Homo sapiens: one gene and its partners. The protein of the gene in region 3 interacts with the protein of the main gene of each other region in a biochemical or structural test. Each region holds a gene or a part of one and is shown on either strand. Other genes may lie near its edges.

Evidence for each region.
Region 1: the proteins of LRP1 (region 3) and SYNJ2BP form a complex in vitro, tested with the Homo sapiens proteins (one study listed by BioGRID).
Region 2: the proteins of LRP1 (region 3) and A2M are reported together in a solved structure, tested with the Homo sapiens proteins (one study listed by BioGRID).
Region 4: the proteins of LRP1 (region 3) and APBB1 form a complex in vitro, tested with the Homo sapiens proteins (2 studies listed by BioGRID and IntAct, with this or other methods).

The regions. Positions count from the first base shown.
Region 1 is NC_000014.9:70,407,065-70,414,090, reverse strand, and holds part of SYNJ2BP (synaptojanin-2-binding protein), read left to right. Parts: intron 1-7,026. UniProt on the Homo sapiens protein: Regulates endocytosis of activin type 2 receptor kinases through the Ral/RALBP1-dependent pathway and may be involved in suppression of activin-induced signal transduction.
Region 2 is NC_000012.12:9,112,906-9,119,992, reverse strand, and holds the start of A2M (alpha-2-macroglobulin isoform a precursor), read left to right. Parts: upstream 1-4,073; 5' UTR 4,074-4,143; coding exon 4,144-4,229; intron 4,230-6,449; coding exon 6,450-6,633; intron 6,634-7,087. UniProt on the Homo sapiens protein: Is able to inhibit all four classes of proteinases by a unique 'trapping' mechanism. This protein has a peptide stretch, called the 'bait region' which contains specific cleavage sites for different proteinases.
Region 3 is NC_000012.12:57,131,466-57,138,491, reverse strand, and holds part of LRP1 (prolow-density lipoprotein receptor-related protein 1 preproprotein), read right to left. Parts: intron 34-7,026; coding exon 1-33. UniProt on the Homo sapiens protein: Endocytic receptor involved in endocytosis and in phagocytosis of apoptotic cells. Required for early embryonic development. Involved in cellular lipid homeostasis.
Region 4 is NC_000011.10:6,402,085-6,409,110, reverse strand, and holds part of APBB1 (amyloid beta precursor protein binding family B member 1), read left to right. Parts: intron 1-3,447; exon of another isoform or gene 3,448-3,978; intron 3,979-4,177; exon of another isoform or gene 4,178-4,305; coding exon of another isoform or gene 4,306-4,366; intron 4,367-4,419; exon of another isoform or gene 4,420-4,488; coding exon of another isoform or gene 4,489-4,504; intron 4,505-5,288; coding exon 5,289-5,464; intron 5,465-5,566; coding exon 5,567-5,623; intron 5,624-5,706; coding exon 5,707-5,792; intron 5,793-5,902; coding exon 5,903-5,966; intron 5,967-6,385; coding exon 6,386-6,535; intron 6,536-6,901; coding exon 6,902-7,026. UniProt on the Homo sapiens protein: Transcription coregulator that can have both coactivator and corepressor functions. Adapter protein that forms a transcriptionally active complex with the gamma-secretase-derived amyloid precursor protein (APP) intracellular domain.

The DNA of each region.
Region 1 (7,026 bases), on a different chromosome or scaffold from region 3:
CATGAAGATATATAGGGAGGAGACTGTCTCAAAATACCACTAGAAACTAATCACCACTAGAAACTTCCACATAATTTTGATGGTCCCATAAGGATCTTTCTATCTATGGAAGAAATATGAAAATCCTCTAAGTATGCATTTCTTTTGTAGGCAGCATTGCCCACTCTTTGTGTTTGTATAGCTGTGTACTCAGGAACCTGATGTTTAATCAGATCCGAGAACATGTGTACCATTCCCCCTTTGTGTTCTGTCAGGGACAAGAATTGTGGATATTTCCAGTGTTTGGGCCCATATTATAAGGCAGTCGAACCTGTTCCTGACTGATCTGCTTACTGCAAGGGAAGTAATGAAATCTTGGGGAAATTATGACAACAGAGTGAAGAGGCAAAAGAAGCTTGACATGTATTAGGTTGGTGCAAAAGTACAATTACTTTCTTTTGTTCTTCTTTTTTTTGAGACGCGTCTCACTCTGTCACCAGGGTGGAGTGCAGTGGCACGATCTTGTCTCACTGCAACCTCTGCCTCCCAGGTTCAAGCAATTCACCTGCCTCAGCCTCCTGTGTAGCTGGGATTACAGGCATTTGCCACCATGCCCGGGTAATTTTTGTATTTTTAGTAGAGACAGGGTTTCACCACGTTGACCAGGCTGGTCTTAAACTCCTGACCTCAAGTGATCCACCTGCCTTGGCCTCCCAAAGTTTTGGGATTACAGGCGTGAGCCACCCCGCCCAGCCATAAGTACCACTACTTTCAATGGCAGAACCGCAATTACTTTTGCACCAACCTAATAGCATGGAATCTCTCCTGTTGTCTGCTTTCTCAACTGTAAGAAGGGACTTGGGCTAGATGACTTCAGAGGTCTCTTCCATCTCTAAGAGTTCATTCTTTGGCTCATTTTATGATTATTTATGTTATTTTATGTTTCCTACCATTTGGAACTTCGTTTTGTTTTTATTTCCTGCCATTTTAGACTAATAGTATGAGCTGAAGAATTACAAAGGCAGTGGCTACAATCTCAAATGTCTTCAAGGGTTGAACAGTTTACCTTTTATCTTTAGTGGAATCTTGTTTTTTTCTACAGGAGTCCAGCTTGATTATAGTATCTAAGGCTCTCACTTTTTCTTTATCAAATTGAAAGTCTCTTAATGCGTCTCAAAACTCAGTTACTCTAAAAAGTGTGACAAGACTGTTTAATATGTTTTTTTGCACTGCAACAGGTAAGAGATTGGCCATAAAGACAACCTTACTGTACATTGAGTACTATGATTAGGAATCTTGTTTTTAGGTCCGAGTCCTCAATGGGTTTCAGCAAGTTACTCCTGATATGCCATCTTTAAAGAGGGAAGAGAATATTTATTTTCTTACTTTCTTTAAAGGCCTTGGAAAAGATGATGGGTTGATGGCAGTGTTTTAATAATGAATACTAAAGGAGGTATTGTCTTTCCGGTAGTGTGCTAGTTACTATATATACATATATATACTGTATATATACTATACATACATATATATACTGTATATATACTATACATACATATATATACTGTATATATACTATACATACATATATACTGTATATATACTGTATATATACTATACATACATATATATACTGTATATATACTATACATACATACATACTCATTTAATCTTCACAGCAACCCTGAGTAATAAATATTTAATCCACATTATTAGATTGGGAAATTGCCTTGGGGAGGTTAAGGACTTGCCCAGTTTCTAATGCCAGTAAATTTCAAAGGATTTTTAACCCAGGTGTGTTAATTCTGCTATACCATATACTACTTTCCACTGCAGTAGCCATGTTTAAGAAGTTGACTGCCAACCTTTCCCCTGACCTTTATTTTATTATATCATGCCTTATTCCCAGAAGCATTTGAGGCATCTTAAATGACTAATACAACCTACAGTGGAAAGTTTTTATTGCTTGCTCTTGATAGAGCTGAGGGCATATCAAGGTGAGTACCTAAAATCAAGATGCCCCATTAAGTTCTATCATTTAAGCCTTGTAGACCTGTCATAGGCTTTGGGTTTCATGCTAACTGAAACTGTTGCTAGCAGTTTTCTGATCTATTCCTTTCTTCACATATCAAATAGATGTGAGGCTAAATGCTATATCCTTGCCCTATTTTCTCTTGCTTACACAAAGTCTCGCCTTCATGGAGTTTACAATCCAATAGAGATATGATGTTCACATATGAAAAATTAAATCTCACTGCAAAGGTGCAGATAGTTAAGGAAAATGATGAGGAGGTAGTTAGTGGGAGGGCAAAGGAAGTGCGGAAAGGAGCATGGTAATCTGACCCTGTGTTGGGAAAGTTCAAGAATGCAGACACTGCTGAGAACCATTAAAATGGTCAATTAAAAGAACGTGGAACTTGTGGGTCTTCTGGAATGGACAGGCTTTAGGCTAGGGCCAGAGTCAGGGATGAGTATGGCCTAAGCAATAATAGAGAGAAGAAAATAAGCAGAGCATATTCTGAGGTTAGTGAGTAAACCAGCCTGGACAGAAGGAAAGTTTCCTTTAGGAGATTCAAGAGAGAAGAGGTAGCTGAGTAGTAACCTGAGTAGGTGGAGATCAGATTATGGAGTCTTTAGTGTTAGTATGGAAACTTAATCTTTCTCTAAAGTTCTATCTGGATTCTTTCTACTTCCTAGCCATTGATTAGGACTCAGTTCAACAGTTAGCTCCTCCAGGAAGCAGGCTTTACCTAGGATAGATGTTCTCTTATTGTCTATATTATACATCATTTACAGATTGCCTGTAATGTATTCCCATGTATTGCCAAGCTAAGCACTGTATCTTGTCCCCTTGTAAAAAGGAAGAGATGAAATGGTTATTATCCCCATTTCAGAAATGAGGAAACCTTGACTTCTGCATTATACAACTCTTTAAGTGAAGATTTCGATCCAGGTCTGTGTGACTTAAAATTCCAAGCCCTGAATCATTATAAATAACTTTTTTTTTCTATATGCTTTCTCACTTATGTCTCCTCCTTCTACTTCACTTTGAGCTCTTCTGAGTCAAAGAACATATATTTTATTTCTTATTTTCTTTCATTTAACTATTATTTTAGGTTCAGGGGTACATGTATAGGTTTGTTATATAGGTAAACAGTGTCATGTGGGTTTGTTCTACAGATTTTTTCGTCACCCAGGTATTAAGCCTAGTACCCATTAGTTATTTTTCCTGATTCTTTCCTCTCAACCTCCACCCTAAGTAGGCCCCAGTGTCTGTTCTCCTCTGTGTGTCTATGTGTTATTATTTAGCTCCCACTTATAAGTGAGAACATGTGGTATTTGGTTTTCTCTTCCTTTGTTAGTTTGCTAAGGATAATGGCCTCCAGCTGCATCCACGTTCCTGCGAATGACATGATCTTGTTCTTTTTCATGGCTGCAAAGTATTCCATGGTGTATATGCACCACATTTTCTTTGTCCAGTCTACCATTGATGGGCATTTAGGTTGATTCGATCTCTTTGCTGTTATGGATAGTGCTGCAGTGAACACATGCATGCATGTGTCTTTAATGTTTTTTTAATGCTTTGTCTAGTGCATGACACACAGTGGTCAGTAAGTGTTCATTAAATGACTGAGCAAACTGATAGATATCATAATAATATAATGGAATGTTTTTATATTTATTTATTTATGACATAGGGTCTTACTTTGTCACCGAGGCTGGAGTGCAGTGGCACGATCTTGGCTCACTGCAGCCTTGACCTCCTGAGTACAAGTGATCCTCTTGTCTCAGCCCCTCAAGTAGCTGGGACTACAGGTGTGTGTCACCACACCTGATTAATGTTTTTATTAGCCATATTTTTCATAGAGACGGGGTTTCACCATGTTGCCCAGGCTGGTCTCCAACTCCTGAGCTCAAGTTATTCACCCACCTCGGCCTCCTAAAGTGCTGGGATTACAGGCGTGAGCCACCACACCCAATGTACTTATTTATTTTTGAGACAGGGTCTTGCTCTGTCCCCCAGTCTGGAGTACAGTGGCACTATGACAGTTCACTGCAGCCTCGACCTCTTGGGCTCAGGTGGTCCTCCTGCCTCAGCTTCCTGAGTAGCTGGGACTACAGACATGCACCACCACACTTGACTAATTTTTTTTTTTTTTAATTATTTGTAGAGACGAGATCTCACTATGTTGCCCAGTCATGCCTTGGACTCCTGGGCTCAAGTGATCCTCCACCTCAGCCTCCCACAGTGCTGCGATTCCAGGCATGAGCCACTGTGCCTGCCATAATGGGATGTTTTAAATAAAGAGAAGCAGTAACATGATCTGTTTCAGCTTTCAAAAAGTGGTAAACATGGTTCTTCACTAAATACAATTTGAGAAAGAGAGAATGAGGATGGACACATTGTATTATGATGGATAGGAAACTGGCTAAGATATCAGAAACAAGGAGAAGGAGTAGATGGAACACCTCTTGGAGAGAGTCAGGTAAATGGAACAGTTCTCTAAAGATTGCTTCAAGGATCAGTATTAAGATCTTTTCAAAACAATACTAAAGAAAAACTGTACAGTAAAATATCTAGGAATTACTTTGGGGAAATAGAAAGGCAAGCTGATAGATGTTCAACTGCAGAAACATTTTGCGAAGCCATGTGACTAGCCAGAAAAGTGGTCAATGATTACATGTGATAAGTACACAATTATTTATTGAGGGAAAAATAGCCAAACTATACTTAGATGATAGGGTCAGAACTGCTGGTTTCAGAAGACTGAAAAGTAAAGTAAAACTATTTTTTAAAATTTATTTAGCATTTATTATGTGCCTACACTATGATTAGGAATCATGGACACTAGAATAAAGAATAAGAAATGATCCCCATTTTTAAGAATTTTGCAGTTCAAGCCAGGCATTGTGGCTCTTGCCTGTAATCCGAGCACTTTGGGAGATCAAGGAGGAGGACTGCTTGAGGCCAGAAGTTCAAGACCAGCCTGGGCAACATAGCAAGACTCCCATCTCTGCCAACAAAACAAAGCAAAACAAAACAAAACATTAGCTGTGTTTGGTGGTGCATGCTTGTAGTCCTAGCTACTTGGGAGGCTGAAGTGGAAGAATTGCTTGAGCCCAGGAGTTCGAGGTTGTTGTAGTCCTAGCTACTTGGGAGGCTGAGGCAGGAGAATTGCTTGAACCTAGGAGGTGAAGGTTGCAGTGACCTGAGATCGTACCACTGCATTCCAGCCTGGGCGATACAGCGAGACTCAGTCTCAAAAAAGAAAAAGTGCCAGAATGCTTGAGTTCAAATCCTTACTCTATCACTCACTCACTGTGTGACCTTGTGCAAGTCACCTCACTTCTATCTGCCCCAGTTTCCTCAGCTATAATATGAGAGTATTATTAGAATCTACTTATAGAGTTGTGAGGATTCAATGATTTTTTTTTTTTTTGAGACGGAGTTTTGTTCTTGTTGCCCAGGCTGGAGTGCAGTGGCGCAGTCTCAGCACACTGCAACCTCTGCCTCCCGGGTTCAAGCGATTCTCCCGCCTCAGCCTCCCAAGTAGCTGGGATTACAGGCGCCCGCTACCACACCTGGCTAATTTTTCTGTATTTTTAGTAGAGATGGGGTTTCACCATGTTGGCCAGGCTGGTTTCTAACTCCTGATCTCAGGTGATCCACCCATCTCGGCCTCCCAAAGTGTTGGGATTACAGGTATAAGCCACCACGCCTGTCCGATTTTTGTTTTATAAATAATTTGTAGTGACGATTCTGTACTGTCTTAAGCACTTTACCACAAAACAACTCATTTAATTCATTGAAGTGCTTTAAGGATACTGCTATGTGGGGAGTAGACTTTATGGGGCAAGAATTGAGTCATCTAGGAAGGGTAGGGTAAGCTGTGTCAGTAATTTCAGGGATATGGGGCTTCTGTTTCTCTTTTTCCCTCCTTTTATGCCTTAGTTTATAAAAAAACCCTATTACTGCAATAGTCCTTCCCCCTCCTCCAAAAAAAAAAAAAACCTGTTAGAAGCTCCCAGAAACATTTTTAACCTTGTGAGATTTCCCTAGAACTGGAAATGTTAGAAATTCCTGACCTAGGTGTAATTTTCAATTCCAATAATAGTCAATTGACACCAGTTGGGCTTTGTGTATGTACTAGGTACTATATTGGCACAGGAGGTACAAAAATGAATATAAGCTAATTACATTGTCTTCTAGGAACGAATATTGCAATAGGGTAATGAGACAATTAAACAAGTAATTTCATGTTTTCAGGCAAAGGGAAGAAGACATCCAAAGTCACGGAGATAAGCAGTAGCTGTGGGCGGGGATGATAGGGTGAAAAGCGATAGCAAATATTAAATTTTGTTTACTGTATAATGCAAAGTAGAGAATGTCCAAAGATGGCTAGAAAGGTAGATTATGGTGATTTTGAGTTTAAACTTCATCTTCTATGTTTTTTTTTTTACTTTGATTTTATCTTGGGGATATACTTAGAATTTATTTAAAAATCATTTTATCATATTTGCATAGGAAATAGTAGAAAAAGTCTACTGTAAGGAGGATACTATAACAAATTTTTTTTTTGCTTAATTAACACAAAATTGGTGCTTTGAGAAACTTTAGCCTTTTATTATTGACTAAGTTGGTGCAGAAGTAATTGTGGTTTTTGCCATTTTTTTTTTTTTTTTTGAGACGGAGTCTCGCTCTGTTGCCCAGGCTGGAGTGCAGTGGCACAATCTCGGCTCACTGCAAGCTCCGCCTCCCAGGAGATCACGCCATTCTCCTGCCTCAGCCTCCCAAGTAGCTGGGACTACAGGCGCCTGCCACTATGCCTGGCTAATTTTTTGTATTTTTAGTAGAGACATGGTTTCACCATGTTAGTCAGGATGGTTGTGATCTTCTGACTTCATGATCCACCTGCCTCGGCCTCCCAAAGTGCTAGGAGTACAGGTGTGAGCCACCGCACCTGGCCGGTTTTTGCCATTTTTTATAGCAAAAACTGCAATTACTTTTGCACCAACCTAATAAGTAGGAGTCATTAATAAATGTTTAAA
Region 2 (7,087 bases), about 48 Mb from region 3:
AGCAGTTAACTGAGTTACCCAGGACCACACAGCTAAGTTAGAAGTAGGGCTCAGGTGTCCTGGCAACTAACTGGTCCAGTTATTTTTTCTCTCAAGCTCGTTTTCCCTCTCCTAAAGAATAGGAGGCTCTGTCGTGGTGAAAGGCGATTTTAGTAATACTTTCCTTTTTATCTGTGATTATAATGAATGCGGCATCTCTCCCATTAAGGATCATTCCTCCACCCACATTCTTAATACATCTGCTGCATGCATCCTTCAGAGACCTCCCTCTGGGATCATCCCTTCTCACTCCAAAAAGCTCAACTTCTCCCCTGTCATTTGTACCTCCCACTCAGCATTTTTAGAAGCAATATTTCATTCAAACTTATTCAAGTTTATTTCCACCTAAAGAAATATTCCTTTCACCCTGGCATCTCCGTCAGGTACTGCTCTGTTGTTTTTCTCCCCTTCAGACAAACTGCCAAACTGGCTCTAGTTCCTCACATTCCCCATCACCCTCAGCAAGCTTCTGCCCCACACCGGCACTGAAACAGCTGAATCCCAATGTCCTTGTCCTTAAACCCAGCAGAAAAAAAAAATCAATCAATTATTTGATTTCACAGCGGCACTTGACATGGGTAGCCAGGAATTTATCAATGACAACCTTTACAGATCATCTTTGTAATTTATCATGAGGCATCAAATGAATGCTATTAACATTAATCCCTCCTATTTTAAGTCATTAATCCAAGTAAATGCTCACTTATTTCTAGCGTCTTAGAAACCATTTAAATTATGTTACATTATGAATCAATACATTATAAAATTATACCATCATTTGTAATAATTTTTTAAAATGTTGTGTGCTATTAACATTGATGCCTTGGTATAAAGTCATGATCATTCTGGTCTAGTAGCAATCTTCTATTGACTATTCTCTTACTAAAGCGGTCCCTTCCGTGGGACTCAGAGACCTCACACTCTCCTGCCTGTGTTTCTTCCTCTCTAATTGGCCCTTCTTGCTCCACTTGGGTGCTCCTGCCCATTGCCTAGACAAGAGCATTCCCTGTAACTCTGTCTTGGGCTCTTTTTCTCTTTTCATCAACATCTTCTACGTGGGTATTATCATCCATTTCCATGGCATCAGCTTGCCCAATAAACTGATAAATCCATAGTCTCTATAAGTACAGCAGATCTCATCAAGCTAGTGGCATTCAGACTGCTTTAACTTTAACCAAAAATAAGGGATTTTGTACATGTTCAATAAGCAGTTCCCACTGTGACACTGTAATCACATTTTCACAATTGTGACCTAGGACACTTAGAGTAAAGGATACAGATGATTGAGACAGAAATAGTGACAAAGAAAAATAAGGTTAGGATATAGATTTTAATGCTGTAACAGACCTCAAAATACAATGGCTTAACTAAGAGAATGCATTTCTCTGTCACATAAAGGTCCCAACTGGCGTAGACTTTTGATGACTCAAGGGCTCAGGCTGTGCCTGGTTTGTGGTTCTGCCTTCCTTAACACATGGCTTCCATCTGATGAGCTACAGCAGTACCTATCACTAGTCAGCATGTCCACATTCCAGCCTGGGCAAGGAAGAAAGGGGAAGCGCAGAACTGTACCCTTCCTTTTTTAAGTCATGAACTGAAAGTTGCATGTATCACTTCCACTTGCCCTCCAGTCACCAGAACTTAGTCATATGCCATACCCAGCTTCAAGGGAGTGGGTTAAAAACATAGAAGTCAACTAGGCAGTCTGCACCCAGCAAAGGATCGGGAGTTCTATTATTAAAGCAGAATTGGAGAAGTGGTAACAGGAAACAACCACCAGCCTCTGCTGCATGTATATGAAACAGATGTTTCCCAAATCACTATTCTCACTTATTCTGTCTGATACACTGTATTTTTTATTATATTCTCTTTCATTTTTTAAAATCCTGGTCATGACTCACAGGGCATGATGTTACAACCCACTTAGATGCTAACACCATAATCTGAAAAATATTACCTATATTATGTCTAATATTGGCCACTTGAAGTATGGCTAGCCTAAATTGATCTATGTTGTAAGTATAAAATTCACACCAGCTTGTGAAAACAAATTATGAAAAAAAAGTCTTTAAGATATCATTAACAATTTTATATTGGCTAAATGTTGAAATGATCATATTTTGGATATATTGGATTAAATAAAATACACTATTAAAATTAATTTAATGTTTCTCTTTATGTGGTTACTAGAAAATTTAAAATTTAAAATTACACAGGGCGATCACATTCTATTTCTAGTAGACCACACTGCTGTAAGCTCAAGATTCAAATGTCAAACTCCTGTGAATATTAATACGTGAATATCCCACAAGCACTTACTCCATCTTCCCAACCCTCAGCCCTTCTGTCCTCCTTCTGCTCCCACCAATCTGTGTTTCTTCTGTTTCACTCACCCAGCTAAAGGCAACACAATTCACTCCGTGACGAGCCAGGAAAATGGAAAGACACATTTTCCTTTATTCCTCACATTGATATATTCACTGAGCACTATAATTACCTCTTAAATATGATATAAATCTGCAAGCTCTTTTCAATACCACCACAAATTCCATAGTTCAAAATGCCATCAGCTTTCACCTATATTATTACACCAGCTCCCATCTGGTCTTCCTGCATCCTGGATCACCTCTTTCTAGCTGCCCTTTCAAATTTCAATAAGAGCAAGCTTTCCAGGAAACAAACCTGAAGTCAATCCACTGAGTACTCCTCTGAATACCTTAATATTGTTGACAAATTCCTTTCTGATTTGAAGTATCAGAAAGGAATATTTCCTCCATACCAAATAGTTTTCATTTCATGCATGTGCCGTGATTCTTCTCCCTCCTTTGCATCTGTCATTCGTTATGCTTAGAAAGCTCTTTTCATCTCTTTGTTCTTCGAGACAACCACTACTCATACTTCAGAGCTTAATTTACATTTTGCTTTCCCTCAAAATTTTTTTAAAAGGTTCCAGGTCTGGGTTATGTGCTCTCTTATGTGCTCCCAGAGCATCCTGAACTTCTGCAATAATATGTTTGGCTACTGTATTTTATACAGTAGTTTTATATTGTATTTTATACTGTATTTTATACAGTAGGTGTTATATTGTATTTTATACAGTAGTTGTTTTTCTGTCTGTTTTTGCCCCAACAAGAATGTAAAATCTTTAAGTGCCTGTTTTCATACTTATTTGACCACCCTATCTCTAGAATCTTGCATGATGTCTAGCCCTAGTAGGATCAAAAAATACTTACAAAGCAACTGAATAGCTACATGAATAGATGGATGAATAAATGCATGGGTGGATGGATGGATTAATGAAATCATTTATATGACTTAAAGTTTGCAGAGGAGTATCATATTTGGAAGGCAGTAAGGAAGTCTGTGTAGTCGATGGTAAAGGCAATTGGGAAGTTTGTTAGGCACAATAGGTCAAAATTTGTTTTTGAAGTCCTGTTACTTCACGTTTCTTTGTTTCACTTTCTTAAAACAGGAAACTCTTTTCTATGATCATTCTTCCAGGGCCTGGCTCTTCATCTGCAACCCAGTAATATCCCTAATGTCAAAAAGCTACTGGTTTAATTCGTGCCATTTTCAAAGAGGACTACTGAATTCTGATGTGGCTTCAAACATTTAGGTTAGGCATATCTAATGGAGAACTTGCAGCCACACTGACTTGTAGTGAAATATCTATTTTGAGCCTGCCCAGTGTTGCTTAAATTGTAGTTTTCCTTGCCAGCTATTCATACAAGAGATGTGAGAAGCACCATAAAAGGCGTTGTGAGGAGTTGTGGGGGAGTGAGGGAGAGAAGAGGTTGAAAAGCTTATTAGCTGCTGTACGGTAAAAGTGAGCTCTTACGGGAATGGGAATGTAGTTTTAGCCCTCCAGGGATTCTATTTAGCCCGCCAGGAATTAACCTTGACTATAAATAGGCCATCAATGACCTTTCCAGAGAATGTTCAGAGACCTCAACTTTGTTTAGAGATCTTGTGTGGGTGGAACTTCCTGTTTGCACACAGAGCAGCATAAAGCCCAGTTGCTTTGGGAAGTGTTTGGGACCAGATGGATTGTAGGGAGTAGGGTACAATACAGTCTGTTCTCCTCCAGCTCCTTCTTTCTGCAACATGGGGAAGAACAAACTCCTTCATCCAAGTCTGGTTCTTCTCCTCTTGGTCCTCCTGCCCACAGACGCCTCAGTCTCTGGAAAACCGTGAGTTCCACACAGAGAGCGTGAAGCATGAACCTAGAGTCCTTCATTTATTGCAGATTTTTCTTTATATCATTCCTTTTTCTTTCCTATGATACTGTCATCTTCTTATCTCTAAGATTCCTTCCAGATTTTACAAATCTAGTTTACTCATTACTTGCTTACTTTTAATCATTCTTCCCCAACTCTCTGAAGCTCTAATATGCAAAGCCTTCCTAAGGGGTGTCAGAAATTTTTAGCTTTTTAAAAGAATAAATTTTAGATATTCACATTCATATTGATCTACTTGAGACCATGCTATTTATCTTTTCTTATTTCCTCTTTCTCAAGGGTCCATTTTCTATTTTATAAAAATAAAGACAATTCTCTCCCACAACCAAACATGGAACAATGCCCTGGAGTATAAAAATCTATAGAGTGCCAAATAAAGGAACAATTTGAAATACTGGTGTTGATATTGAAAAAGCAAGGGACTCTAATGTCAGAAGAGAAATCCTTTTGCAGATGAGGTGGTGATGAATTCTTTGTTTCAACACAACTGAAGGAGGAACTGAAGGAAATACCAGCTGATGAGTGATGAGAAGGGATTCTTGATAATAGAGTACTAGGTGATTTTTGGCATGTAATGCAGAAGTTGCAAGAAGTGGTAACAATGATGCAATTGTTTTACCTGCCATTTATTTACTTTTATGTGAGCCATTCTTCTTAGCACTTATAGCTACACAAAACAAAAATAGTAACAGAATTAATGTTGTTTAATTCTTGCAATCCATGGATGCATAAATTCACTGGGGGAAAAAACAGCTCATCATTCTCATTAAAGATGTGCTTCAAAAGTATTTTAATTTTATATCTAATATGTATGAATCATACTTTGTATTTATTTTGTTTTGATCAGTTATATACAAGTATTTTTGAACATAGCTCAGTCAGAAGGAAATGTTTAATATTTATAAATTTATGGTTACATTCTATTTAAAAGAGGAGTTAAAGTTAAATTTACCTACCCACATATGTTACATATATATGTATTTATGTATATGTATTCATATATGTATATATGTGAACATAAGTATACATACGTATATGTATAGATGCTTGACAATAAAGAAGTAAGAATAATTCACAACATTTTTTGAAATATAAAAATTTAGGATAAATTTCTGTATGGTAATTGGCATGGAAATTCAAATTCAAAAAGGAAAAAAGAAGAGAAAGATATTAAATATCAGACCATTAAAAGAATTTTTTAATGTACTTTTAAATAGTGATAGTAGGTATCTTATACTACAGTGTTTATTATTCATGAGAAAATTGTAAAAGTAATCTAAGTATTAATTTAAAATATCATCAAAAATAATATCTTTTGCTATTACTTAAAATCATGATAAAAATATGTTTACTTGAAAATATGTAAGGAGTGCACAGAGTCCAAAAATTATTTTAGGAGTTCTGTGAGCAAAAATGTATAAAAACTACAGGGTTGATCTTAAATTACATGTCAGGGTACTGAGAAAGTTTCTGTACTGCACATGAGTTACCAAGGTCTAAAGTCAATCACCAGAGGACCATTTTTGGATGGAGCCATTGTCTAATCATGAGCTGAAAGGCAAATATTTAAAATGCAAACATCCATGGTTAGGTAACACTCTTAAGACCTTATTAGCTGCTTACCACAACTGAGACTGTGAAGTAATGGCTCACTTTCTTTGAGGCTCAGATTCCATATCTGTGGAGTGGAAGCGAGTGCTTACCATACAATTTTCACAGGGCTGCTGAATGTGTGTATGTATGTATGTGTGTATATATATTTTAATGAAAATTCTATAATTTGATTAGTTTTTGTAATGTCCGCATGACTGAGAGCTTGCTTACTTTTTACAGCAACTTGAAGGTAAAAATAGATTTTACAACATGAACAAATGTAACTACATATTTTTATTTGAATTCAGATGTTCACAAATTGTTCCTTAAAGTGAAGCATGCCTACAAGTTTTAATCTGTTTAAGACCTACCTCAAGTAAAATGTTCACTGCCATGGCATGTGAGGGAAAAGGGAAATAATTCTTATGCATGGCCTTCAACGGCCAAATTTCATGCTCATCAGTACATCTTCTCTTGGTGTAGAACTGATGATGATAATTATGATGATGGAAAAAAGTGCTGTTGATAGCAATGCCTCTCTTCCTTCACTTTCCTCTAACTGAACCGTCTCATTCCCAGGCAGTATATGGTTCTGGTCCCCTCCCTGCTCCACACTGAGACCACTGAGAAGGGCTGTGTCCTTCTGAGCTACCTGAATGAGACAGTGACTGTAAGTGCTTCCTTGGAGTCTGTCAGGGGAAACAGGAGCCTCTTCACTGACCTGGAGGCGGAGAATGACGTACTCCACTGTGTCGCCTTCGCTGTGAGTGTGGCTGTTTGACTTAATATACTTGGTTCTTTTAGTCAGGGTCATAGGGATCTAGTATTCTGTCAGATGAGGCTTTGGGAGGTTGGTAAGAACTGCAGGAAGGAATCCAAATGTAGCAAACTAAGTATAGAAATTAAGGAGCAATGCATGACTCTCCAGCCATGGGAGACAAATATTTACAGGCAAACTAAAAGTCAGCTTAATAATCACATAGAAACCCTATTAGCCAGAAAGGAAAAAAAAAAAAAGAAAATGTGACTTCTTAAAATTAAGATGGAAAAAATATTAATAAAGCAAACTAGACCAAGGCTCAACATGAGCCACCCGTGGTGGACTGACAGGAACACATCACTCCACACTACTTCTAAGAGTAAAAATTGTAGAAATTACCCTGAGCAAAGGTGTAATATCTCTTCAGAGTTGTCCACATGTGAGATGCTTACAGCCT
Region 3 (7,026 bases):
AGGCAAACTGCTTGGGGCTGCAAGTCTTAGGGGCTAGGGCAAGGAAAGAAAAGGGGATATAAATGAAGGATGGAGGCCAACTCTGTGAACCCAAAGTCCCCTAGTACTGCTCTTCCTTCCCTAGCATCAGTCTCCATCTGGCCCAGACCCTCAGCCATGGTCTATGTGCCTGGGGGTGTCAGGGGGTGGCTTTGGGTAGTTCCTAGACACTGTGTATCTGCGGTGGGGGTGGGGAGGATCCAGAAGCACATTTTACTGCACCCCTCCAAGTCCTCTAGGCTGCCTGTTCCTGGGAGTCAGGGTCAAAGCCTTTGCTATTCTTGGTTACTCTCATCAGACACCAGCACCCCCTGGCTTTGATGACAGAGTGATGGTGAAGGGGGGTGCATTTAGGCCTTGACATGTTTTCTCTTTGTCTTCCTCTAACTCCTACTACTAGAGGCCCCGAGCTGGTCTTATCTAACCTCTCTGCTTCCCTGCCTTCTGGGACACTCCTGGTCCCCTGACCCATCACCCCATCCTTCCCAACCCCTAATCACTAGGCCCCCAGATGGGAGCAGTGGGGAGGGATGCCCTTGGCACACACAGTAGTAGTTGGAGATGGTATTAGCAGAGGCACAGGAGGGCAAGGCTGGGCAGGAATGGGCAGGGTAGAGAGCCTTGCTTCCATTTCCATTCCCTATTTTTTTTTTTTTTGAGACAAGGTCTCACTCTGTCCCCCAGGCTGGAGTGCAGTGGCACAATCTCAGCTCACCGCAACCTCCACCTCCTGGGCCCAGGCGATTCTCCTGCCTCGGCCTCCCCAGTGGCTGGAACTACAGACATGCATCACCATGTCCAGCTAGTTTTTGTATTTTTAGTAGAGACGGGGTTTCACCATGTTGGCCATGCTGGTCTCAAACTCCTGACCTCAGGTGATCCACCTGCCTTGTCCTCTCCATTCTCTAAAGACACAGCCTCCCTTGGTTAGACCTCAGGGAGACTTTCAGTAGACATCCTTAGAGTTAAGAAGCACCTAAAGATTTTCAAGATATCAGAATTGGGGAGCAGAGGCAGGGGGATGGCTGAAATGAACTCTAGGAACTGGTTTCAGTCCAGTCCAACTAGTTAGCTACTATATTCAGGACCTCTTGGCCCTACCCTCCCACCCCAATCAGGCTTCTTCCACTCCTACCCCATTCTCTTCCCTCATCCCCCAAGGAGGAATTAAGAATGGTGACAACTAACTCTGTTGTTTTTTTTTTTTTTTTGAGACAGAGTTTTGCTCTTGTTGCCCAGGCTGGAGTGCAATGGCACGATCTTGGCTCACTGCAACCCCTGCCTCCCGGGTTCAAGTGATTCTTCTGCCTCAGCCTCCAGAGTAGCTGGGATTACAGGCATGCGCCACCACGCATGGCTAATTTTGTATTTTTAGTAGAGACGGGGTTTCTCCATGTTGGTCAGGCTGGTCTCGAACTCCCAACCTCATCTGATACATCCATCTCAGCCTCCCAAAGTGCTGGGATTACAGGCGTGAGCCACCGCACCCGGCTGACAACTAACTCTTATTGTGGGCTCAGTATGTGCCAGGAACTGTGGTAAAGCAGTTTTTTCCATGTATCATCATATTTAATTCCCTCCACAGTATGACAAATAGGGACAACTAATACCACCATTTCACAGATGAAGAAATTGAGCCAGGTGACTTGGCCAGGGTCAAATAGCTGGCAAGTGACAAAACCAGCTAAGCTGACTCCAAGCTCTGAACCAGTGAAATCCACACCAGTCCTCCGAATTCCCACTCCTCCCAACCTCTATCACCACATCCTCCACAGGAGGAACAGTCACCCACCCCTTCTCCCCCACCCAAGGCTGAGCTCCCAGTCTCCTGGCCTTTCGTGGCTTTTCCTCAGACTGTGCCATCACATTTCTATTCTGCTGGCACACACTGAAGGCCAGCTCTATGCCAGGCACTGCACTAGGCATCAGGGTGCCAAGGAGGGTGAGATGACCCTCTGCCCTGCAGGAGCCAGAGTCGCCTGAGAAGACAGCTGTACCCAACTAATGCAAATGCAGGGCAGAGACAGAAGTATAAGGAAAATGGCGGGGGGGGGGGGCTCTTAGGAGGGAGGGAGTCTGATGGGAGCCTCACTGAGATGTCTTCCCTCCTAACCCCCACCGCTGGCAGGGGAGACGGCACTCAGGCCCCTGGCCAAAATGACCGAGTTCAGGAAACACATCAAGGATGGCCTAGCCAGGCTCCCCCTTCAGCCTCCCTCCCCTGGCCCCCACCCTGAGCCTGGAATAAAGGCCCCTTGAGGAGGTGGATAATGCTGAGTTCATTGCCCCACTGGGCCAGCTGTGAGGTCTTCCCGGGAAACACAGCCCGCCAGCCTAGTTAGCATGCCGGAGAACCGTCCGCTTCCCCTGACCAGCCGTGGCCGGCTGAGGGGGAAGAGGGGGGCTGGAATGGGACTCAGAGGCAGATGAGATGTTTGGAGCCCAGAAACAGACCCCCGTGCCACCCACCTGGGACTTGGTCCATGCCCTGCTCCTCCCAGGGGCAGAGCGCACAGCCACGGCCTGAGGTCACCGGGTGGTCACCTAACCTCCCCTCCATTCCACATCCCAGCCATGGTGCCCCCTCCTTTAGCCCTCACTGAGTCCCCCCCGCTGTCCCCCACCCCCATTTTTGGCCTGAACTCCACAGAGGAAACAGCAGCTGGCAAACTCCAAAAGCTGGAATGAGAGAGATTCACAAACCAGATGTGCTCTTGCAGGGAGGGGATGGGGGATGGGACAAGTGAAAGGAAGAGGAGGGCCCAGGCCCCTATCCCACAGCAGCACCGGGGGAGGGGGCCACATCTCCCGAGGGCCTGGCCAGCACAAGGATTGCAGAGAGATACGTGAAAGAACTTCCTGTCAGGGCTGGTGTTGAAGGGCCCAGGAATCTGGAGCGAGAAGGCTGAGGCCTGTCTTTGATTTCCTTCAGGGGGAGAGGGAAGAAAGAAACAAATAAACTACTTTGGGACAGTCTACACAGCCAAGGGAAGCCTCACTCAGAGCTGGGAGAGAGCTGAGTTGGGAGCGGGGTAGGACCCTTATAATCTGCTTAGAGGGAAAGCCAACCCCACTCCCCTCAGCAGAGCCTTCTGTGTCTGAATCCAGCACCCAGAAAACCCACCTTTGTGGCCTGCAGTTTAGATGAGAGAACAACATTGCCCTAAGGTCAAAAGCAACTAAGGCCTTCCCCGCCTCCTGGCCCGCATGAGAGAACCCGGAGGTCTCCCTGACCGATGGGAGCTAACCTTTTTCACCTTGCTAACCACCAGCCACTGATTGGAAATACGGTGACTATTAACTCACTTAGATACTATAACCCTGTGAGGTGGGTGCCCTTGCGGCCCCCCTCTCACACATGGGGGAGCTGAGGCACAGGGTGACTGGTAACTGAGCAGGTGGTTTCCTCATAGGTCATGGGATGCAGCCGGGTTAAGAAAGGAAACCAGGCCGGGCATGGTGGCTCATGCCTGTAATCCCAGTACTTTGGGAGGCCGAAGCAGGCAGATCATGATGTCAGGAGATCGAGACCATCCTGGCTAACGCGGTGAAACCCCGTCTCTACTAAAAATATGAAAAATTAGCTGGGCGTGGTGGCAGGCGCCTGTAGTCCCAGCTACTCAGGAGGCTGAGGCAGGAGAATGGCGTGAACCAGGGGAGGCGGAGCTTGCAGTGAACTGAGATCGCGCCACTGCACTCCAGCCTGGGCAACAGAGCGAGATTCCATCTCAAAAGAAAAAAAAAAGAAAGAAAGAAAGGAAACCAGATGGGCGCAGTGGCTCCCGTCTGTAGTACCAGCACTTTGGGAGGTGGAGGCGGAGATGGGCGGATCACTTGAGGTCAAGAGTTTGAGACCAGCCTGGGCAACATGGTGAAACCCTGTCTCTACTAAAAATACAAAAATTAGCAGGAGGCGGAGGTCGCAGTGAGCAGAGATCACGCCATTGCATTTCAGTCTGGGTGATGGAGTGAGACTGTGTCTCAAAAACAAAACAAAACAAAAACAAAAAACAAGGAAGGGAAATTGCAGGGAGAACGCTGTCGTTCTCTGGCCCTGGCAGTGGGGAGAGGATTTTAAGGGGTGGCCTTCAGGGCTCCTCAGAGAGGAGGGAAGGGCATAGGGGAGACAGAGAGGAGCAAGAATGGGACAGAAGAAGGGGAAGACAGGCAGGAGAAGAAGAAGGAGAGATCTAGAGAGGAAGGAGAGAGAGCGAGTTTGGAGGAAGAACACCAGGACACAGGGGCCGTCTGTTCTCGGCTTTGCCTGAAGATGAATGTGACTGCCATGCTAACTTGGCCAACACCCTGCCCCACCCCCCCAAACCCAGGCACCCAGCCCAGCCACGGTCCCCAGGGCCACCAAGCTGGAGCCAGGGCAGGAGGTGTAGAGTTGGGTGTGCGTCCAGACACAACACAGACCCCACTGCCCTGCTTGACCCTTGGCTGTCATTCTGTGTCCCATTCTGGGACCTTGGGGGTGGGGAAGTGGGGTGAGAATGCCTGGCCAGAGAGGGTGACAGCGAAGTCCAACCCTGAAGGAGTCTTCTCCAGAGGAGGGGAACCCATCCTTTGATACCCCCTTGAGGGAGCGAGAGCAAGGAAGAGAGCTAAGACCTTAGAGGTGCTTCTTAAAGGACAAGGAGACTCAGGGACTGCAAAAGCATGACAGGGACTCTTGGGGCCCTTTTTAAGAGTGGACACAGCAGAAGGAGAGATAGGCTCCCCTCTGAGCTAGGTGAGAGGGGGGTTCTCTAAAGGGAACCACATGATATAGCTAAGGGAACAGAGTGGGAGGAGGATGCTCAAGGTGCGGGGGGTGGGGTGGGGGGGCGGCGCGGGGACAGAGCCTGCAGGAATCTGAATTTTCGACCTTATGGGGGTGGGGCAGCAAGGGCCTCCCAAACCCAAACCGAGAGGTTTTCACTGAATTTTTTGTATTTTGGGTGTTGCCCAGTGGCTCTTTCCTGAGGCTCAGACACATTTTTGTCATTCCTGAGTCTGGGCCTCTGCTTTGCGGCCTGGACAGACAGACAGACAGGGTGGCTTGGACAGCCAGGGGAGGGGAAGGGTCTCCGCTTCCATTCTGAGTCAATATTGATGCAGCAGGACATTAGCCTGACCCGTGACCTCCCCCACCAGCTTTTCCTTTCCCCACAAATAAAAGCCAGACCCCCAGAAGGCCTCCAGAGGTCACCATATCACTCACCAGGCATTTCTAAGCCTCCTCTCCTTCTCCCCCCACCCCAGCCACACACACAGCTTATGCTCACCAGAGTAAAAGCTCCAAGTTCTTGACTCACTCCTTACATCTTTCTCCAGTTCTTAGGCTCCTGGTCAGGAGGAAGTTCTGCCAGAAGTCTAACCTCCCTCCTTCCTTCTGAAATACCTCCTTTCTCCCTCTTAGCCCACAAAGGGTATCAAGTTCCTTTCTTCCAGAAACATTCTCTCCAAAACCCATTCCCCAAATTAGTGGAGGGGGAAGAAGAAAGAGGAAGTCGGAGGAAAGTGGAGAGGAAACTTTTGGTGCTGAACTGGACACTGGGTCTGGCCAGGAAGGGGGAAAAATAGCCAAAACAGAGGGGAGGGAGCCAGGGGGTGAGTGGGAAAGCCCAGAGAGACTCTTGCTCCCAAGAAGCTTTTGGGATACCAAGAGGCCTGGATGGGGGTAAATGGAGACAGGCAGAGAAAAATAAGACAAGTGACAGAGACGCAGAAAGCAGGGCAGAGAATGTCACAAAGGTTCGGCAGTAAGAGATGAACTGAGAGGGTGAGAGACAGAGAGGTTCTAAAAAGCCAAGACAGCGCACACTAATGACAGACAGACAGAAAGACAGACAGACAGCCAGAAAAGCCAGGAAGGGGGCTCAGTCCAGAGATTGCCAAGGGGATGACACAGTTGTCCTGGGATGAACCCAGAGAATGACTACCCCGCTGAGCCTAGAGTAGGGTGGGAGCAAGATCTGTCCTATCTTGGAGAGACAGAGTCTCGGCCCTAGGCAGTGCCTGACTCAAGGGAGACCCAGAATAGGGACCACTACCACCCCTGGAGTCAGGAGGGTAGAAAGGAGGGAGGAAAATGGAGCTCTTCAGCCAGGGAAGCTAAGGCCTGGTGGGAGAGGGAGAGGCTTTCATCTCCCCTAGGGGAGCAAGAGGGACAACTCTCCACATATACCCCTCACCTCTTTCCCAGGGAGGGTTTATATTGGTGCCTGAGGCCATTGCACCGGAAACACTCCAAAGCCAACTGCTTCCTTCTCCAAACAATGCAGGATCCTGCTAACCAGGCTGAAATCTGGGACAGAAGAGGGAGGCAGGTTCTCTATCGCTCATACCCAGCACTACCAAGTCAGGGGCCTTCCTGCAGTACCATTCAGCTGCACCCAGATGCCCCAAGAGCAATGAGCCCACACGCAGAGCTGGAGGACCTGAAAGGTAAAGAGTCTGAGGAGTGAGGAGGACCCTGAGAAGAGAGTACTGGGCGGGAATAAACCTAGGCTTGGGGGTTCTGATGTGCAAGGGCTCACACTGCAGCAGGAGGAAAGAGAGATAGACTTGAGTAAGGAAGGGCTTCCCAAAAGGTAAGGAAGGGGTTTTGAAGAATGGGGGCATCTGGACAGGAACTGACTCTGGCCAGGACCTGGGCTGTCATCCTTTGGGAGGCTCAGTGGTGGAAGGGTGGTTGAGAAAATGAAGAGAGGAGAGAGAACAAGATCAGAAGAAAAAGATGTCTAGTGAAGCAGCCCTAAACATCAAAATATCCCTCCAACCCCAAAATGAATTTCTTACACATTCTTGCTTTAAAAGACAACGAGGCAAAGGGAGACGTTTAGGATGTGAGTCTGATCAGGGAGAAAGGAGTTTAGAACTTTCTCTCAGGGATCCAGGAAGCTAACACCCCAGCTTCATAACTCACTTCCACTGTACCTACTCTAGTAACTGGTAATATGCCGGCTCAAGGGGGTGTGTGGAGGAAGGTCAGGAAAAAGG
Region 4 (7,026 bases), on a different chromosome or scaffold from region 3:
ATGGCAGAGAGAGACCCTTTCTCAACAACAACAACAACAGTTTACTTTTGCATTTCTGAAAGATAAAACTCTTAAAAAAAAAACCCACCACAATATCATTATTGTACCTACAAAAATTTAATAATAATTCTTTAATATCATTAAATATCCTGCCAAAAAAAGGCTGGATTGAGCCTGGGCACAGTGGCTCACGCCTGTAATCCCAGCATTTTGAAAGGCTAAGGTGGGTGGATTGCTTGAGGCCAGGAGTTCAGAAACAGCCTGGTTAACATGGTGAAACCCTGTCTCTACAAAAAACACAAACATTGGCTGGGCATGGTGGCTTATGCCTGTAATCCCAGCACTTTGGGAGGCCGAGGCAGGTGGATCACGTGAGGTCAGGAGTTCGAGATCAGCCTGGCCAACATGGTGAAACCTTGTCTCTACTAAAAATACAAAATTAGCTGGGCGTGGTTACAAACGCCTGTAATCCCAGCTACTCGGGAGGTTGAGGCAGGAGAATCACTTGAACCCGGGAGACAGAGGTTGTGGTGAGCTGAGATAGAGCCATTGTACTCCAGCCTGGGCAATAAGAGCGAGACTCCTTCTCAAAAAAAAAAAAAAGAAGGAAAAAAAAAATGTAGAGACAGTGTCTCACCATGTTGCCCAGGCTGGTCTTGAACTCCTGTTCTCAAACAATCCTCCTACCTTGGCTTCCCAAAGCACTAGGCTTACAGGTGTGAGCAACCATGTCTGGCCTGATCTATCTGTTAAAGTTATGTTTGATCAAGTTCCCCTTCTATTTTTTTCGTTGTTGTTGTTTGCAGTTTTGCTTTTGTTTTTTAACTGGAGAATCATGTTGCTTGTCCTGAGTTTTCTATGGTTTGGATTTTTCAGACTCTCTCCTGTGGTCATATTTACCATGCTCCTCTTCCCCTGGATTTCCTGTAAATTGGTAGTTAGTTCTAGAGCCTTGATCAGATTCAGATTTGAGCATTTTTGTGTTTTGCTTTTGCAAGAATATTTCATAGGTGGTATTAAATACTTCTACTAGGCCGGGCGCGGTGGCTCACGCCTGTAATCCCAGCACTTTGGGAGGCCGAGGCGGGTGGATCATGAGGTCAGGAGATCGAGACCATACTGGCTAACAAGGTGAAACCCCGTCTCTACTAAAAATACAAAAAATTAGCCGGGCGCGGTGGCGGGCGCCTGTAGTCCCAGCTACTCGGGAGGCTGAGGCAGGAGAATGGCGTGAACCCGGGAAGCGGAGCTTGCAGTGAGCCGAGATTGCGCCACTGCAGTCCGCAGTCCGGCCCGGGCGACAGAGCGAGACTCCGTCTCAAAAAAAAAAAAAAAAATACTTCTACTAAAGGCAAAGTCTGATTGCCTCTCTTTTTTGTGATGTTAGTGGCCTTTGGTGGTCATTGTCTCAACTCCTTTTAAAAGGAACAGCCCCTCCTGCACTCCAGCTGATTATTTTTGGGATTGGGGTGAGGAAAAATATAGTCTCAATGCAGCCAGTTAAAGGGAAACTGAAAACTAGATATTGGTGTAAAATAGCCCAATTTCTAAACGTTAACAACAAATTCTATTTTTTAAAAAGCACTGTGCAGGCCACACACAATCTATCTGAGGCTTGCATCAGTCTGCAGGTTGTAGGTTGGAAGTTTGCAAGACTAGGGGGTGTGAGTCAGTGACCAAATAGAGGCCTAGTTGCTCACTTGCCCCTGGGATGGTCACTGTGGGGGCTGCAACTCTGAACTACCTATGAAGCTTCTAGGAGTAGGGGGATAGTACTGCTGAAGAGCTGGGGCGGGTTTGCTGGGCAGTGACCTCAGCAAGGATGTTGGAGTGGCAAGAGGATTCTCAAGGATCATGCACTGGTGGAGACATTGTGAATTGAGGATAGAGGTGGGGGCCAGCCCAGGAAAGGGGCCAAGTCACTCTTTTACAACTGTGTTGCTATGACCATGAGGGCTGCAGAGAAGGTTTGTGCTCCTGCAGAAATGAGGCTAGAATTGAGCAAAAATTATATTCTCCTTCCTATTGTAGGATATTCATAGAGCTATGGATTGAATGCATAAATGCATGAATTCATGAATTAAATGAATGATGAATGAATAAACTTTACTACCTGTATTGAATTCATACTCTGCTCCAGGCCTTATCGTAAATGCTGGAAATGTATACTATGGGGCAAAGATGTTCTTACCTCCTGGCCTTCACAGCCTGGTGAGGAGACAAAGAAAGAAACAAGTGGTTATGATCAGTGCGATGAGCTCTCTGGGGCTGGGGAAGTACAGGAGGGGCCCCTGACCCTGCCTGTGAGAGTGGTGGGGGAGAGGGCAATGGGTCAGTTTTAAGAAGGGACCTGTATACTGATGTCTGAAGGAGAGGTAGGTGATAGCCAGGTGAAAATCGAGAGTAAGGGAGGTGGGCTGGGAGAGGACAAGGGGGCATGTCCCAAGCAAAGAGAGAGAAGGGGAGTGGCTGGAGGTAAGGCTGAGAGGCAGACAGGGGTTCATGACAGCACATAAAACCTGGGGAGGAATTTGGACTTTATCCTGAGGGCAGTGACAAAACAATTAAGAGGATTCCGTTGGAAAATTACTTGATTAGTTTAGCATCTCAGAAGAATCATTTGGGCTGTACTGTGCAGCTGAGATTGGAGGAGACCAGATAGGAAGAGAAAGACCAGTTATGATGTTTTTGCAATGATGCAGGTTAAAAAAAAAAAAGCTAGTAGCCTGGGCTATGTTAGTTATGTGGGGTGGAGAGAAGGGGAAAGCTTTAAGTCAATCACTGATTCCTGAGCAAGTGAGTACACCTGGCTTCACCACTAAGGCATTTGTGGATGAACGAATGAAGGAAGGAAGGAATGATACGTGAACATTTAATGTATTTTATATGTAAGTGTCGCATGAATCGATGCAGGAGTGAAGGTGTGCGTTCTGGAATAAATGCATGTGTGTGAAAGCAAAGGCCGGGGTGGGCTGCGCTTGGAGGGAGATGTGCCAAGCTCCAGAAGGGCCTCCCAGATGGCCAAGGGGGGAGAAACTGCCCTTCCAGGACAGATCGGAAGGATGAAGCTCTTTGAAGCAGGAAGGTACAGGCTGACAGGGATGGCAGATGGATTGGTGTGTGTGACTCAGTCAGGAGATGGTGAACTGGTCCCCAGATTCCAGAAGTGTCCAGCCAGCCCTCATGAAGCAGGCTGTGGCTGTGGAGGGCATGGAGGCCCTAGGGTGCTGTTCCTGGAAGGTTTTAGCAGGAGAGTCCTGAGGCAATGGAGGGTCTCTAGGGAACAGCAGGTATTCCCTGAGCCTCAGCTAAGTTTCAGGTGCCTATTGAAAACCTTATTCCATAGAGTGTGAGTTAGGGGGAAGTGGGGGTGAGGAGAGGCGGTGATGGCTGCCTAGAAGGTGGATGGGCAAGAGCCCCTCCTCTTTGGGTGTCTGTGGGCCCACGTCATTTGGAAGCTGAGGATGGTGAAGCACCCTGCCTGAATAACTCTCGTCAGGTGTGCAGCCACCTTGGCGTAACCACGCCCACTCCCAGCCCTGCTGTGTCTGGTTGCCCAGCAGCAGGGTCTTGGGACTGCCTGTCCCTTAGTACTGCCTCTTGGACCAGTCAGGATTCCTGGTTTCCCTGGTAACGGGAAGCACGTCAGCAGTCTGGGCGCTCCCAGCCGGTCCTGGTGCTGCGGTTGCCGAGGAGACGCTGCAGCCTAGCTGGGCCCTGGCAGGTGAGGGGTGGGGGGTGGTGCTGGGAAGCCCCAAGCCCAGCCTCAAGCTTGCTGGGGCTCAGGACCTCAAAGCCCACCCTTGGGTTCAAACTGCTGTGCAGGTCCTGGACAGGGGCGGGATCCCTGAAGGCCTTGAAACCACACCCTATTTATGCTGACAGCTATAGGCTCTGCAGGGCCCCAGGCAGCTGGGGTATTCCTTAGGGGCTGAGTCTCCTGGTATCCCTAAGACTGGGCTTGGCTTAGGCACTGAGGTAACCACTGGAGGGTGGGATGGAGATTCAGGATTGGGGGAGGGGAGCCAGGGCGAGGAAGAAGAGGTGTGAGCAGAAGGGGCTGGGGTCTCATGAACCTCCCTTTCTCCTCCCTTCCCCACCCCCCAAGGAGATTCCCTAGCATGGTGGTCCTGGCCCCTCCCTAGCAAGCTCCAAGCGGGGGAGGATCTTGCCTGGCAGACGCTCTGCCCTGGTGAGAAGGGGGCGGGATGAGCTTTTCTCTGCAGCCCAGCACCAGGCTGTGAGCCCAGCTGGCTGGGCTGGAGGGGCTGTGAGGAGGGAGGGTGGAGGCAGGAGGGGCCGGGAATGAGCGCCATGTTCTCCCAGGACTTTTTCCTGGCCATTATCCTGCAGGACAGCAGCGCAGGTGAGGGGCAGCATGAGGTTGGGCCTCATGTGGGGTGGGGCTGACAGGGAGAGAAGAGTTAGAGGACGCATGAGCGGGTTACAGGGTTGGAGTGGTGTGGCTCTGCCGGCAGACAAGGGTGTATGACACAGATGCGAGGTATGTGTGTATGTGCATGACATGTTTGCTTGCATCTGTGTGCAGCAAGGGTCAGGAAGTGAGCGTCTGTGGTGTCTGCACACATTTGGCAGGGTTTGACGTGTGCCGTGTGTCTGAGTGTGGGTCCGCCTGTGTGTGTGGTACCCACACGTGTGTTGGGGCCATTGTGGTGTGGTATCTGCACACCTGTGTGGCAGGGGCTCGTATGTTTAGCTGCATGCACACACACCTCTGTGGTGTCTGCATAAGTGTATGGCTAAAGTTTGTGTGTGTGTGCCCCTGCACATACATGTGCACCTGTGTGTGATACCTGCCATCTGTGCTGGCATTTTCTGTGTTGCATACCCTGGTGTTTGTGGCTGCACAGGTGTGTGGTAGGGCTTGTATGTGTTGTGTGTCTGTGTATACATGTACGTGTGCAGGAGCTAGAAAGTGTTCACCTTCGTGTTAACTGAGATAATAGATATGTATGAAAGGAGGTTAATTGGGGTCACCCAACATTCATTGCTCCCTTCCTTCTTCCCTCCCTGCCTTCCTCCTTTCCACAGTGTGGCCACATTAGCCACCAACAGGGCCCAGGAGGAGACCTGAGCCATGTCCCCTACTGGTGGCCCCACATGTGGTGACTCCAGACTATAGGCTCTAGGCAGAAGCAGGAACTGTGTTGTGGTATAGCTCTTCCACCACCCCTTCTCAACCATGGGGTCTCAGAGGGGACCGGGCATAGGCACCAGCTGTCTGCTCTTTGGGTAGGCTGACCCTCACCAAGCCTCCCACCTGGCAGATTCCTTCTGGAACCCCAACGCCTTCGAGACGGATTCCGACCTGCCGGCTGGATGGATGAGGGTCCAGGACACCTCAGGGACCTATTACTGGCACATCCCAACAGGGACCACCCAGTGGGAACCCCCCGGCCGGGCCTCCCCCTCACAGGGGAGCAGCCCCCAAGAGGAGTCCCAGGTGAGGCTCACAGGCCTGTTGATTTTGGGCCAGGGGTGGAGGGAGTGTGTGCTGCTGGAGTAGGATAGGACACTCACTCACTACTCCCATCCCTCCTCCTAGCTCACCTGGACAGGTTTTGCTCATGGAGAAGGCTTTGAGGATGGAGAATTTTGGAAGGTGGGTAAGGGGACCTGCTTTACCACGGGATAGCTGGAGGAGGGGCATCATTTTGATACTGATTCCTCAATCCCCTTCCCAAGGATGAACCCAGTGATGAGGCCCCAATGGAGCTGGGACTGAAGGAACCTGAGGAGGGGACGTTGACCTTCCCAGCTCAGAGCCTCAGGTGAGCTGCCAGATGCAGTGAGCTGGCAGTGGGATGGATCTGTCTGGAAGGGGCCTTGGGACAGCTCCATTTATGGGAGCCCTGTGCCAAGTATTACCATCTGCCTTCAGCCCAGAGCCGTTGCCCCAAGAGGAGGAGAAGCTTCCCCCACGGAATACCAACCCAGGGATCAAGGTTTGTTCAAGACTGACACCCATTCTGAGTCTGGGGCCCTCTTATTTGTCAGACAGCCCCTAATGTTGTGCTCTGAGGGGTCTCAGCGCAGTTCCCCAGGTCCTGAGTTAGGAGTTCTTCCAGTCTCAGCACAGAGCCCTGTGTCTGAGCTGGAGGCACTTCAGTTTTTAAATCAACCAGCCCAACAGCCAGGTTGGGGGCCCTTGTAGTCTTAGTTCAGGTGCTTTTTTGTACTAGCTGGGGTCTCATCTGACATCTCCCTCACCCTAACCACATCCCCCTCTCCCTAACCACATCCTGTTTGGGGAGCTTCTCCGTCTTAGTTCAGAACACCCTGCCTCCTGCCACACTCTGTAGTCAGGAACTCTCCAGTTTTGACTCAGATCCTCTACCTCCTGCCCCTCTTCTGTGTCTGGCAGTGTTTCGCCGTGCGCTCCCTAGGCTGGGTAGAGATGACCGAGGAGGAGCTGGCCCCTGGACGCAGCAGTGTGGCAGTCAACAATTGCATCCGTCAGCTCTCTTACCACAAAAACAACCTGCATGACCCCATGTCTGGGGGCTGGGGGGAAGTAAGGACCTGAGCCGGGGGTAGGGGGTGGTACTGTGAGAGTGTGAAGGGAATTATGAGAGATGGGAGGTCTGACCTGCCCACAAGCAGGCTGGGGAAGGGGGATATTGGCCCATCCTAAGTGGCAGCCCTGTGGGATGGATGAGCGACCCCAGGCCAGGACCTTGGGAGATAGTCGCCTAACAACGGTGGAGTCAATGTGAGAGATGACACGTGACCTCCACTAGAGTGAGGCCTGCAGGGCGGGCGGTCTGACACCAAAGCAGGGGCCCCAGAGCTGTGGCTAACATCCCCTGAGCTGCAGGGGTCAGAGATCAGCCACCATCCTGGCTGGAGTCCCACTGAGTGCCTGCTTCTGGTCCTGCAGGGAAAGGATCTGCTACTGCAGCTGGAGGATGAGACACTAAAGCTAGTGGAGCCACAGAGCCAGGCACTGCTGCACGCCCAACCCATCATCAGCATCCGCGTGTGGGGCGTCGGGCGGGACAGTGG